4 linked regions of the Homo sapiens genome follow. The protein of the gene in region 1 interacts with the protein of each later gene in a pairwise test. Each region holds a gene or a part of one and is shown on either strand. Other genes may lie near its edges.

The links.
Region 2: the proteins of TAX1BP1 (region 1) and ARK2N interact in binary tests that used the Homo sapiens proteins (3 or more experiments, as listed by UniProt).
Region 3: the proteins of TAX1BP1 (region 1) and TSEN2 interact in binary tests that used the Homo sapiens proteins (3 or more experiments, as listed by UniProt).
Region 4: the proteins of TAX1BP1 (region 1) and IGFN1 interact in binary tests that used the Homo sapiens proteins (3 or more experiments, as listed by UniProt).

What each region holds. Positions count from the first base shown.
Region 1 is NC_000007.14:27,746,662-27,750,161, forward strand, and holds part of TAX1BP1 (tax1-binding protein 1), read left to right. Parts: intron 1-1,856; 5' UTR 1,857-1,863; coding exon 1,864-2,025; intron 2,026-3,500.
Region 2 is NC_000018.10:46,177,034-46,180,533, reverse strand, and holds part of ARK2N (protein ARK2N), read right to left. Parts: intron 1-3,500. UniProt on the Homo sapiens protein: AMPK substrate important for exercise capacity and skeletal muscle function.
Region 3 is NC_000003.12:12,504,980-12,508,479, reverse strand, and holds part of TSEN2 (tRNA-splicing endonuclease subunit Sen2), read right to left. Parts: intron 3,327-3,500; coding exon 3,249-3,326; intron 1,773-3,248; exon of another isoform or gene 1,645-1,772; intron 1-1,644.
Region 4 is NC_000001.11:201,221,824-201,225,323, forward strand, and holds part of IGFN1 (immunoglobulin-like and fibronectin type III domain-containing protein 1), read left to right. Parts: intron 1-915; coding exon 916-1,004; intron 1,005-2,855; coding exon 2,856-3,051; intron 3,052-3,500.

The sequences.
Region 1 (3,500 bases):
TGGTAGCAAAGTCCCTTTATTAGTGCAGAGGTAAAGGGGGATTGCTACTGAATATACTCTTTATCTTGGAATGCTTGCAAACCTCAGGTAGGGAGAGGCTGACAACTAGCCTGATACTCTACAGTGGTTTCCAGGTTCATGATTGACAGTCTCTTTTTGGGATATCCATTATATTCAGTAAAGCAGGACTTTGGCCATAACAGAAGCAGAGGGGACACAAGAAGAAAGTTGATATTTTTTAAAGTGCTTATTATTACAAAACTTTAAAAATTTGCCTTAGTATTTCAAACAGGTCAGCAAAAGAAACAGTTGTAAAAGCACACTGTTTTAGATCTTAGCAATAAGCCTTCTTACTAATGGCTAAAATATGAGTAGAGCCTTACTGCTGTGCTTGCTCTGTAGAAACTTCATTGATTTGTGAAGTAAATTAGATTAATTTGGTTAGCAAAAACCTTGCCCCAGTTTTCCCCATTATTACAGAGATGCCTGTTTTAATGACTCAAGCAAGTGCAGTCAGGACAGTCATAGTTTCTTATGTGTATTGTAGAATTAGTGATTGTACGGAGCCTGTGACAAACTCTACAGATTGCTTTTTTGGGTAAATCCTCATTTGTTTCTGTTTTCTCAAAAGTAGAGCACAAAATAGGGAAAACATTTGGATCTTGCAGTTTTTATAATCTGCTTTCACCATTCATCTGCTATCCAGTGCTTGGTGTTTACTAAGCCAGTGAGCGTTCATGAATCTCTAAGAGATTTTCAACAGTGTGTATTTTATTAACACTACACTTTTATTTTTATTTTTAAATATAAGTTTATTTTAATCAGTAAACATGTGGAAAGGGTACGTGAATACTAGAAGTTGAGGTAGGATCATTGATTGGACCTATGATGAAATGATAGGTTTGTTATAGGTGGAGAAGAACAAATAGGCTGAGCCATTTCAAGTAGACCAGCTAAGATTTTACATGGTTTGAGAGATTTGAACAAGCTTGTAACAGAAGCCCAAGAAGACAGGCTGGGTCTGGGATCTGTGGAAATGAGTGAGAGGTAGAAGTTGTTGGATAGTGGTTCTCTTTTCTGGTTGCATACAGGATTGAGATTACTTGGGGCGATGTAGGGGCAGGGCTATGTATATTCGTATACACACCCACAGACACACATGCACACACTCCCAGGCCCCAATCCCAGAAAGTTGTTGTCATCTATTTTTTTTTTTTAAAGGCCCCTAATGATTCTAATGTGTAACCAGGGTTGAGAAATGCTGGTCCAGGGGATTAGAAGGGCAGGAATGTAGGCACAGAGATGTTAGCGTCAGGTTTAGTTATAGGACCCCAAAACCTAGGGAGAGGGGAAGAGATGAATGGGATGGGCTAGGTTAGGGAGGAGAATGATGAAGCCCAAGGGTTCTACATAGGAAGGAAATGTTAATTGACCCATAGCCAGTAAAATACTGACTTTTAACTGTTCTTGTTTCTGTTTCTTAGTGTTTGTTACTAGGAGCCAGCAGGTTTATATTGGCAGCGTGTGCACAAAAACACCTCTGGTTCATTTGCTTTTGATTTAAATAGAAGCAGAGGGCTAGGCTTTCCAGGAGAGTTAATTTTTGGTTTTGGTTTTTTAACTTTTAAATGCCCATATAACTTTCTGAGCCAAATGGGTTTTAGTTATTTTTCCAGTTTGTCTGTATTTTTATATTTAATCAATTTTTAAGAAGTTCCAGTATTTACAAAGTATATATTTTCTTAATTATGACATGCAAATATTCATGAAACTTATATTAAATATTATGTATTTTCTGAAGGCATAAGTTTATTCTTAGTTGGTATAATTTAACTTGTATGAATTACTTGTTTCAGATTCACAATGACATCCTTTCAAGAAGTCCCATTGCAGACTTCCAACTTTGCCCATGTCATCTTTCAAAATGTGGCCAAGAGTTACCTTCCTAATGCACACCTGGAATGTCATTACACCTTAACTCCATATATTCATCCACATCCAAAAGATTGGGTTGGTATATTCAAGGTAAGAAAGCTTTCTGAATATGTTCTCCATGTAAACACTTAAAATTTTCTTTTAAAACAGATTGATAAGTAGCTTTTACTTGCCTTAACTCTGCATTAAGACTCATTTTTGTAAACATCACCATGAAATATTTAACAGTGGGGAGTAGATAAAATGGATGTTGGGAACTCCATTTCACCAGATTTTCCTCTCCCTGATCAGAAAGTTTACCTTCACTTAAGGACTTGTGAAAATTTTTTCAGAATCTTCTTTTCCTATTTTCTCCATTCATTACCTGCAATAAAAAAAGATCTTTTTCTTTGGGTTCTTATATTATTTACCATTTTTTCCAGTCATTTGAAATTAATTTTATACAGCTTGACAGCCATGTTATTATCCCTTCTACTGTCCTGCATGGCTTAAATATTGCTCAGATTGTATTACACAGTTTTAAGAGTATTCTGTTTGTATTACACAGTTTTAAAGTATTCTGTTTAACATGACTGAATAGTAAACTCTTTGATGGCAGGAGTTCTAGTTCTTATATTTTACCAGTGATTTTGTATAATACTTTCTTGAAAATGAAGGTGATCATTACAGTGGTACACCTCACTGTGCAGGACTTTTTCTGGCAATTTTAACTCTTCAAAATGTAGTGGAAAACCAAAACATAAGAATGTCCTCTGAGCAGTCAAAATAATGTCACGAATGTCCAAACAGTAAAACACATTCACTTTTCTCCTGTGTTATTCTGTAGTCTTCCTCAGAATCAGTTTGTTTTATTTTAGTTAAGATTTTTATGGGCTTGAAATTTTGATTGTCTAATCTGTATAAAGTTAAACAACAAGGAAGAAAGAAATGAATAGCTGCTAGAAATTAGGCACATTGAAAGTGTCTAGAAGTAAAAGTCCAGCCTGACGGGAAGGCAGAAAAACATTTGGACAAAACAATTTTGGCATTTAATGACTTAGTTCCTTTCTTTGAATTCCTCATTTCTTGATGTTTCTGAATACAACACAATAGTTATTTACTGTTTACTTTTTGTGTCAGTTTTTTAGGCTTGTCAAATCCCAAAATGGAGAAACATTCATTGTAACAATTTTATGAAATTAGGAGTAGTTTTTAAATTTTATTTCTTATTTTTTGAGACAGGGTCTTATTCTATCACTCAGGCTGGAGTGCAGTGGTGGGATAGTGGCTTACTGCAACCTGACCTCCTGGGCTCAAGTGATCCTTTCCCCGCAGCCTTCCAAATAGCTGGGATTATAGACACAACACCACGCCTGGCTAATTTTTAAAATTTTTTGTAGAGACAGGGTCTCACTATGTTGCCTAGGCTGGTTTTAACTTCCTAGGCTTAAGTGATCCTCCTGTCCCAGCCTCCCAAAGTGCTGGGATTACAGGTGTGAGCCACCGCACCTGGCCTCAGTAGTAGTTTCGATTTTATGGGAGATACTGGTATCAAGTTAAAGATACTGATTGAGAACTGATGTTTT
Region 2 (3,500 bases), on another chromosome or scaffold:
TGTTTCTCCAAGTTGGTCAGGCTGGTCTCAAACTCCGAACTTCAGGTGATCCGCCCGCCTCGGCCTCCCAAAGTGCTGGGATTACAGGCGTGAGCCACCGTGCCCTGCCCCAAACTGCTTATTTTATGTGCCCATTACCACCTGGCATGTAAATGCTCAGTAAATGGGTTTTTAATTTAACCAGGTATAAATACCACATATGCATTAAGTCCCTGCTGATAGATTTCCACTTTAGATTAATTGTCACTTAACTAGAAAATACTCATTTAGGTAGGTTTTAAAATTATTTAAAGTCAAGTTAATAATTTAGGAATTTACACCATCTACCTATTAAGTGGCAGAGTCTGAGCAAAGAGGAATGAGGTCCCTTATTTTGAACAGACATGAAAGAGAACAGAAACAAAACTTAAAACACTGTAAATTAAAGCCAAAATTCCTAACAACTAATCAAACAACTTATCAAATCTCAGTTATATTGGCTACTTTAAAGTATTTTAAAATCACATTTACTATTATCAGCTGCTACAAATATGTTCCGATAAATCTGTATAACACATAGATCACATAGTTTCCTCTCCTAGCAGTTCAGGAATATAGAAGAGAACTTTAGGCCGGGCGCAGTGGCTCACACCTGTAATCCCAGCACTTTGGGAGGCCAAGGCGGGCAGATTACCTGAGGTCGGGAGTTTGAGACCAGCCTGACTAACATGGAGAAACCCCTTCTCTACTAGAAATACAAAATTAGGCAGGCGTGGCAGCACATGACTGTAATCCCAGCTACTCGGGAGGCTGAGGCAGGAGAATCGCTTGAACCCAGGAGGCGGAGGTTGCGGTGAGCGGAGATGGCGCCATTGCACTCCAGCCTGGGCAACAAGAGCGAAACTCCGTCTCAAAAAAAAAAAAAAAAAGATAACTTTAAAAAAGCAAGATTACTTTTTAGTTTCACCCTGCTCCTGCTCCTTACTTTTACAAGGCCCTGTAGGCTGAGTGTGAAAACTGACTGACTGAACATCAATCCCACTTCTGCTGAGAGAAGCTGCCCACACAGAAGTAAAAAACACTGCTTCTTTAAGTGGAATCATAAGAGTTCTGAAAAAGTAAGGAAAAGAGGTACAGGTAAAGGCTAAAAGGATTCAGAAGAGTATCATGACAACAGTCAAACTCAAAACCAAGACTGGAAATTGACAACTAAAGAAAAATAACTATCAGATTTATTTAATCTGATGACCAAGAAATCAAAATAAATAAACCAAACTAAAATAAATAAAACCAATAAAATTTATATTCACTGGGCTGGGCTCAGTGGCTCACCTCTGTAATCCTAGCACTTTGGGAGGCCAAGGTGGGCGATCACTTGAGGTCAGGAGTTCAAGACCAGCCTGGCCAACAGGGTGAAACTTCGTCTCTACCAAAAATATAAAAAATTAGCTGGGTGTGGTGGCACGCGCCTGTAATCCCAGCTACTCGGGAGGCTGAGGCAGGAGAATCACTTGAACCCAGGAGGCAGAGGTTGCTGTGAGCAGATATCCTGACACTGCAGTTCAGCCTGGGTGAAAGGGCAAAACTCCATCTCAAAAAAAATTTGTATTCACTCAACTTAAGGATAATAAAGAAAAATATTTTTGTTGTTTTTTTTTTTTGAGAAAGAGTCTCAGGCAGTGGCATGATCACCACTCACTGCAGCCACAAACCCCTGGGCTCAACTGCTCCTCCCATTTCAGCCTCCTGAGTAGCTGGGACTACAGGCGTGTGCCACCACACCCAGATAATCTTTTAATTTTTCTGTAGAGACGGTTCTGCCATGTTGCCCAGGCTGGTCTCCTGGGCTCAAGCAATCCACCGGCCTCAGCCTCCCAACGTGCTGGGATTACAGGCATGAGCCACTGCACGTAGCCCCAGAAAAATCTTTAAAAAGTTATGTCAGGGCCAGGCATGGTGGCTCCCGCCTATAATCCCAACACTTTGGGAGGCCGAGGTGGTGCATCACCCGAGGTCAGGAGTTCGAGACCAGCCTGGCCAACATGGTGAAACCCTGTCTCTACCAAATACAAAAATTAGCCTGGCATGACGGCACATGCCTGCAATCCCAACTACTCGGGAGGCTGAGGCAGGAGAATCACTTGAACCCAGAAGGTGGAGATTGCAGTGAGCGGAGATTGTGCCATTGCACTCCAGCCTGGGCATCGCAGTGAGACTCTGTCTCAAAAAAAATAAATAAATAAAAATAAAAGGAATGCCTATCTCATTCTTCACATTCTACCTGGAATTCTTTCCTCCAAAAAGAAGAAAATTCCCAACCCATTAGCGGACTAATAAGGTACCTTTGCAACTTGGCCCTATCTCCATCTGCCCTATCCATTCCTTTTGAAAACTCAAGGCACTGGCCCCACTTAACCATTCAAGTGCACTGATAATCATGACTTTGGTTAGGCTGCCCTAGCCTGGCATGCTCACCTGGAAATCCAACTCGAACCTCAGGTTTAAATGTCTAAGCTCCTTAAGCACCAGGTGGCCTTGTTGGTCTTATTCACCACTATAGTTCCTGCAACTAGAGCACTGCTGGCACACAGTAAACACTCAATAAATTGTTGTTGTGAGAATAAAGACTCTCCATATGAATTATTATTTTTTGAAACAAGGTCTCACTTTGTTGCCCAGGCTGGAGTGCAGCGGCACAGTCACAGCTCACTGTAGCCTCAACCTCCTGAGCGATCCTTCCACCTCAGCCCCACAAGCAGCAGGGACTAAAGATGCATACCACCCCACCCAGCTAAGTTTTTAAATTTTTTATAGAAATGGGCTCTCAAGGCCGGGCACGGTGGCTCACACCTGTAATCCCAGCACTTTGGGAGGCCGAGGCAGGTGATCACTTGAGGTCAGGAATTCGAGACCAACCTGGCCAACATGGTGAAACCACATCTCTACTAAAAATAAAAAATTAGTCAGGCGTGGTGGCAGGCGCCTGTCTTAGCTACTTGGGAGGCTGACATGGAAGAATCATTTGAACCCGGAAGGCAGAGTTTGCAGTGAGCCAAGACCGCGCCACTGTACTCCAGCCTGGGCAACAGAGTAAGACTCCATCAAAAAAAAAAAAAAAAAAAAGTAAAGAAAAAAAGAAAGAACAAACGAACAAAAGAAGAAAAAGAAAGGGGCTCTCACTATGTTGCCCAGGCTGATCTCAAACTCCTGAGTTCAACTGATCCTCCCGTCTCAGCCTCCCAAAATGCTGGGATTAGAGGTGTGAGCCACTGTGCCCAGCCCCTTACAAATATTTTATCCACTCTATTTTCTATCCCCCTTCTATATAGCTCTCCCCTTTTATAGTCTCACAACTTTTTATTCATAGTATCATATGTACTTCATTTTGCCTAGAGAATTACAGTAACCCAAGAAACTTTATTTGGTCCCAAACTCTTTCCTAAAATAACAGAAGATAATGAAATCACTATTCCTTAAAGGAACACATTAAAAATCCAACATTTAGGCCGGGTGCAGTTGCT
Region 3 (3,500 bases), on another chromosome or scaffold:
AGAAACACTCCGCGGGTACATGCAGTGCACCAAACATAGGTGATTCATTCAAAAGAAATCTGCCAAAACAGAAAGACAAGTAGAGCTAGGTTTAACGGTGTGCTCCCTGAAAACTTCTGGAACACATCTCTGAAATGTTCTCAGGTGCCAGGCAGCTTCTAAGAAGGCAGAGTAACCTCATCTCCTGTCTCCTATTACTCTTGCCTTTCATCAGGGGGTGTTCAAGAGGAGGCAGCAGGCAGCAGCAGCCTTTAAAAAATTTGTCAATAAAAGACAGCAGCTGGTCAACTGGAACAGTGCAGCTGAACTCCCAGCATCTGACACGGAATACCCTTCGCCTACAGCTGCCACCTCCCAGGCCAGGCCTCCAGCCCACCCTCCATACTGATGCTAGCTCTGGTCACTGCCACTCCCCTACGGAATCCCCTGCAGTGCCCTGCTGGCCCAGGACCAGGCCAGACCCTGACTCATGGACACACCCTCCCCCATCTGGCATTCGTTTTGGCAGAGCTATCTGGAAGAGCCTTTACTACCCTGTGTCCATGTGGCAAGCCCCATTTATCCTTTACTATCCTCAGCTATCATGACTGCAAAAGCTTTCCACCTCAGCCCTGCAAGATGGTCTCCACCAGCTTCGATGCAAATTCCCTATCTTGTACATTCATTCATTTAATAAGTATTACGCACCTAATAGATGTCAGGCATTGGGCCCAAGGAAACAGGAAGAGCGATACTGACAAGATCCATATGCCACACTATGCTTATCACACTGAACTGTAATGATTTCTGGGCTATCTTTAAGACCAAAGTCACATTCTACTTATTTCAGTATCGGTAGCACTTAGCCCAATGCCTGGCACATAGTAGGTACCCAATGGGCATTTTTGTGATTGTAAAAAAGAAGGTTCCAACAAGCTGCTAATTAGCTTTTACAAGTAACTTAATAATGACAAAAATAGCAGGCACTAACATTTATTGAGCATTTACTATATTATCAGGTACTGTCCTGACCCAATTACATGTATTATTTAATTTCCAGAACATCCTATGAACAAGATGTTACATAGCCCCCACTTTACAGAGAAGAAATCTGAGGTTCTGACAGGCCAAACATCTAAGAACGGGTACATGTGGGCTATAAAGCGCTCCACAGTGCTGGGAATGCCTACGCATCTGCTGTTCAATACAGTAGCCAGTGGCCACACGTGGCTGTTCAGTGTTTGAGACGTGGCTGGTGCAACCGAGAAAAGGAATTTTGAATTGTTTATTCTATTTTATTTTATTTTAGAGACGGAGTCTTACTCTTTCACCTAGGCTGGAGTGCAGTGGTGCAATCTCAGCTTACTGCAACCTCCGCCTCCCGGGTTCAAGTGATTCTCCTGCCTCAGCCTCCCGAGTAGCTGGGATTACAGGTGTGTGACACCACACCCAGCTAATTTTTGTATTTTTAGTAGAGATGGGGTTTCACCATGTTAGCCAGGATGGTCTCGATCTCCTGACCTCGTGATCCACCCGCCTCGGCCTCCCAAAGTGCTGGGATTACAGGTGTGAGCCACGGCGCCCGGCCCCCACAATTACTTTCCTGTGGTCTCAGCTATAAAATTACCAACATGGATGTGTTCCATAGCACTTCTTGGGACCTACCTGTATGCCAAGAACCACACTGGACACTGCAGGAACTATCAAAGAAAGCCATCACAGAGCTCCTGGAGAAGAGGGGAGCCCAAGAAGCGGTCCTAGCTTCAAAGGCAGAAAAGACATTTCTGTGTGCACTATCAACATAAGCAAGAAAAGAGGGTCTGAGCATAAAGTGACCACAGGTTAGAGGAACTCCAGGTCACTGGGACAATATGATGCAGTTTATGGAAGGCCACTTTTAGCCACTTTTTTTTTTTTTTTTTGAAACAGGATCTCGCTTGTGCAGTGGCGTGACCTCGGTTCATTAAAGCCTCGACCTCCCAGGCTCAAGCAACCCTCCCACCTCAGCCACCCAAGTAGTTGAGACTACAGGCATGCACCGCCACACCTGGCTAATTTTTGTATTTTTTGTAGAGATGGGGTTTTGCCATGTTGCTTAGGCTGACCTTAAACTCCTGGGCTCAAGCTATCTGCCTGCCTTGGCCTCCCAGAGTGCTGGGATTACAGGTGTGAGCCATGGCACCAGGCCCAAGCTAACTTTCAAGAATGTAGCTACTGCATTAAGTAGAGGGATCCTGCAGAAGGAAATAAATCCATTTACTTAACTAGCAGTCACTACATGATCTGAATCATGTAGCACAGTATATGAAAAGTAGAGACTCCATGAATATACCAAACAATAGCGACTTGTACTCTTTAAGTGGATAAATTGTATGGTATATGAATTATAGTATTTTTGAAAAAGCTAGTGAAAATTAGTAACAAAATATTCAGCCAATCCGAAATCCACTTTTTTCTTCTTTCCACCCCCCTACCCCCGGCATCACCAGTCAGCATCTGTTAACAATCTGAAATCTTTTTATTCTTTTTTTTGTTTGACACAGAGTCTCACTCTTTCGCCCAAGCTGGAGCGCAGTAGTGCAATCGTGGCTCACTGCAGACGTGACCTCCTGGGCTCAAGCAATCCTCCCACGTCAGCCACACAAGTGGCTGGACTACAGGCATAAGCCATCACACCTAGCCATCAACATAAAGCCTTTTTTTTTTTTTTTTTTTTTGAGACAGAGTTTCATTCTGTCACCCAGGCTGGAGTGCAATGGCACGATCTTGGCTTACTGCAACCTCCACCTCCCGGGTTCAAGCAATTCTCCTGCCTCAGTCTCCTGAGTAGTCGGGATTACAGGCATGAGCAATCACTCTAATTTTTGTATTTTTGGTAGAGACAGGGTTTTACCATGTTGGCCAGGCTGGTCTCGAACTCCTGACCTCAGGTGATCCTCCTGCCTTGGCCTCCCAAAGTGCTGGGATCACAGGTGTGAGCCCCCGCACCCGGCCTAACAATCTAAAATCTTAATGAGAAAAGAAGTACTCAGAAAAACCCCTCGAATCTTCTGTGGAATGATTGCAAACACATATCTTAGAACTGATGAAATAAAGGCTGAGGAGTGAAAGGCAGGCCTACTTGGGAGCTACCCATAGTGATTTCAATACTGAATTACAATATTCAATAATTGAATTACATACAGAACTACACTGTGAGGTAGGTTCACATATAGTGTAGTTCAGGCCCAGAGACCGATGGCTGAAATAATAATATGTTGAAAACATACCTCTTCTAGGCTGAGTTGCAAATACTCAAAGATCCTATATGGATTTCTTCTGCATATTAACCTGTTTCTTTGCACCAACTAAAGAGAAAGAAATACAATATATACAGAACAAATGGAAGCACTACATGTCATAGAGAATGTATTTTAAAATGAACATTTTTCTTATAAATTCCCAGGATTCACATTCTATTGTGTTAATATTATAAAGAATGATTAAAACACAATTTTTTTGAGACGGACTCTTGCTCTATT
Region 4 (3,500 bases), on another chromosome or scaffold:
ACTTACTAAGCCAGGATCCCCACCCTCAGTTTCAGGAAGTAACATTTATTGAGCACCTACTAGGTGCTAGGTACTGGGCTAGGCAGTCCCTTCTTAGAAATGTTTTCTCATTACGACTCATAACTATACTACAATATTAATGTTTTTATTCCGAAGTTACAGAGAAGGAAACTGAGGTTCAAGGTACTTTGCCCTAGTTGTCACTAATGGTATGTGGTACAGCCAGGATTTAAACCTGGAGACTCCAAAGTTGATGTTCTGTAGGAGAGAGAGTGGCTGCTTCCCGGGCATGGCCTTCGAAGGCCTAAGGGCCGCTCAGCTCCCATGGTTCACGTTCAGAATGGGACATGCCCAGCTCCCCGTTATTATTGAAAAGAGGATTGTCTTTCCCTTTGGGCTTTAACCACCACAAGCACCTGATCTGCCTTTGACCCAAGCTGACACTGGGCCACCCCAGCTGACCCTAGTCATCACTATGGCAGTAGGGAGTCACAAACACAGCACACGGAGTCCAAAGTCCCAGAATCTTGTCCTGGCTCTCTCCCGAACAAGGTGTGACCTCAGGCAAGTCATTTCCTGTCTTAGATTGGTGTTTATCTCATCTGCAAAACATAAGCGCTCTGCCACATGTCTGCATCTTCCTCTGTTCCAGCCTAGTCCACCCCTCTCCCTGCAGGGTTCCTTTCTCAGCTCCTGTCCCTCCCCCGCTAGCATCTCCCCATCAGCCCCTGGGGTCTCCCCTGAAGATTCTGCTCCCAGCTGTACTCCAGTCCTTTAGAGGCCCCAGTATGTTGGGATCTCAGCATCAATCCGACTGGCCCAGTCTTCCCCTCCAGCCCTACCTTGCTGGGGACCTGGGGCTGGGGTCCAACTGTGAGGGAGGAGGGAGGTAACCAGTCCTCTTGTGCGTTTCAGTCTGTCCCAAGTTCCTCGTGGACTCCAGCACCAAGGACTTGCTGACAGTCAAGGTCGGGGACACAGTTCGTGTGCCCGTCTCCTTTGAAGTGAGTGTACCTGCAGGGGTGTGGGGAGGGAAGCCCAGAGAGGCCAAGGGGGCCAGACTCAGCCCTGTGGCTCTCTTTTCTTCCCTGTTCCTTTTTGGCCCCTAGTCAGTGCTTGTGGAAATCACTGACTGGGCTTGTGGAAATCAGGTGAGAGACATGAGGCAGGAAGGATTCAGGTCCTCCTTGAAGGTACTGCCCTCACTTGGCGGCTGGGTGGCCATTCTGCTCCAGGCCTGCAAATCCCTCTAGTGGTAGCTTCAGCTACTGCACCTCCAAACTAAGGCTCTTCGGTTCTCCACCTCTCCTAGTCTGGGAATTCAGGGAGCCGGTCGTGCAGATGATCCCCTTTGACTTCACAATGTATTTTTGTGCAAGCACATGACCTATATTTGACTCAGGGTGATCCTTAACCAACACCAACACCACCTGACTTTACAACAGTAGGGTGGTGGCTAAAAGTACAAACTGCCTGGGTTCAAATTTTGATGTCATCACTCACAGCCGTTTGACTTTGGACAAATATTATTTATTTATTTATTTATTTATTTATTTATTTATTTTGAGATGGAGTCTCACTCTGTCACCCAGGCTGGAGTGCAGTGGCACGATCTCGGCTTACTGCAACCTCCACCTCCCGGGTTCTAGCGATTCTCCTGCTTTAGCCTCCCAAGTAGCTGGGATTACAGGCGCATGCCATCACGCCCGGCTAATTTTTGTATTTTTAGTAGAGATGGGGTTTCGCCGTGTTGGCCAGGCTGGCCTCTCAAACTCCTGACCTCACGTAGTCTGCCCACCTCGGCCTCCCAAAGTGCTGGGATTACAAGTGTGAGCCACTGTGCCCAGCCAGAACAAATATCTTAACATCTCTGTGTTTCACCTTCCTCATCTGTCAAAAGGGGATAATAATAGTAACCTACCTCAAAGGTCTGAGGGTTCAAGGAATTAATATATTGAAAGTGTATATGTAGGGCCTGGCATATGACAGCACCCAATATGTTTTAATATTATTATTGTTTAAAATCATCATCATCTGTGTAGGAATTCAAACCAGTCTATCTTACTCTAAATGACTTGTTCTTAACCACAATAATGACAATGATAATGATGGCAAAAATATTTAATGCACATTGAGTAGTTACCATGTCCTAGGCCTTGTTCTCTCTGCTTTCCGTGTATTTATTATTAACGCCTTAAATTCTCAGAACAATCCTGTGAGGTCAGTTAGTGACTATCAGCATCTTCGTTTGACTCTGGTGCCCACCGTGCCCTGTACTGAGGGCCCCGTAGGGAGTTGACGGCATGGTCACCAAGCAGCTGGGCTGGCCTTCCCACCCTGCTCAGGGTCACCACAGTTCAAGGCCAGGACACCGCAATCTTCCTCCTAGACTATTGCCAAATTATCTCCTACATGGTCTTGGCTGCCAGGGTGGTTAACACTCCCCTCCCCACACATCCCTTCTCATTCCCATCCCACCCCCTGCCATGTGAATCCAGAACTCATTATGCTTTCCTGCTCAGAATCTGACAACAGCGGCTCCTGGCTGAGAGGATAATGTCCAGATGTCTGTAGAGGTGTGACGTGGAGGGCACTTTGCATTTTTGCCGAACCTCTTCGTCCAACTTCCTTTCTTGTTCTACCGCCCCCCTACCATACCCGCCTGCCAACCTCACACTTTATCACCACCCCTCTTTCCCACCTGTGTTTTCTTGTCGACGTTGTGTTTTCTGGTCGACTTTCTCCTTGTAGAAGACTCTTCTCACCGCTTCTACCTTTGGCCTAGCTTAAATGCCATCACCTCCATGAAACTGCCAGCTTCCCCTTCTCAACTTTTCCTTCCTCTCCTTTCTCAGGCCATGCCCATGCCTGAGGTGACCTGGCTGAAGGATGGCTTGCCCTTGCCCAAAAGAAGTGTGACTGTCACTAAGGATGGCCTCACCCAGCTTCTGATCCCTGTGGCTGGACTCTCAGACAGTGGTCTCTACACTGTGGTGCTGAGGACCCTGCAGGGGAAGGAGGTTGCCCACAGCTTCCGTATCAGGGTGGCAGGTGAGGCAGGCCTTGCTCTGGGCTCTGGACGCTGGCTCGGCCACTCACCAAGGCAAAGAGGTGTCCACTGGTCTGATCATAGGTCTCAGCCACTCTACCAGGGCTGGGTATGCAAAGTGACCATTCTCCACCTTTCCTCCATGCTTGATGATAGAAAGTAGAAAGGACCCCAGAAGATCCCCTGGGGACTTCCATTGTCCTTCTGCCTCAGGAGCCTAGAGACAGTCATGTCATGTCTCCTCTCCGACCTCAGTTATCCTTCCCGTTGAGTCAGTGAGCAGAGGCGGTTACCACTGTTACATCACTCCAAAGACCCAGGGGACAAAATTGTCTGCAGCCGTTGCACAGGATAAAGGCTTTCCTCCCCAGCTGTGGCTCCACACAGCCCCTGCCCTGGAGGAGCTTCTGGATATCCAGAAATGATCAAATAGACTAACAGTGGGGGCTCT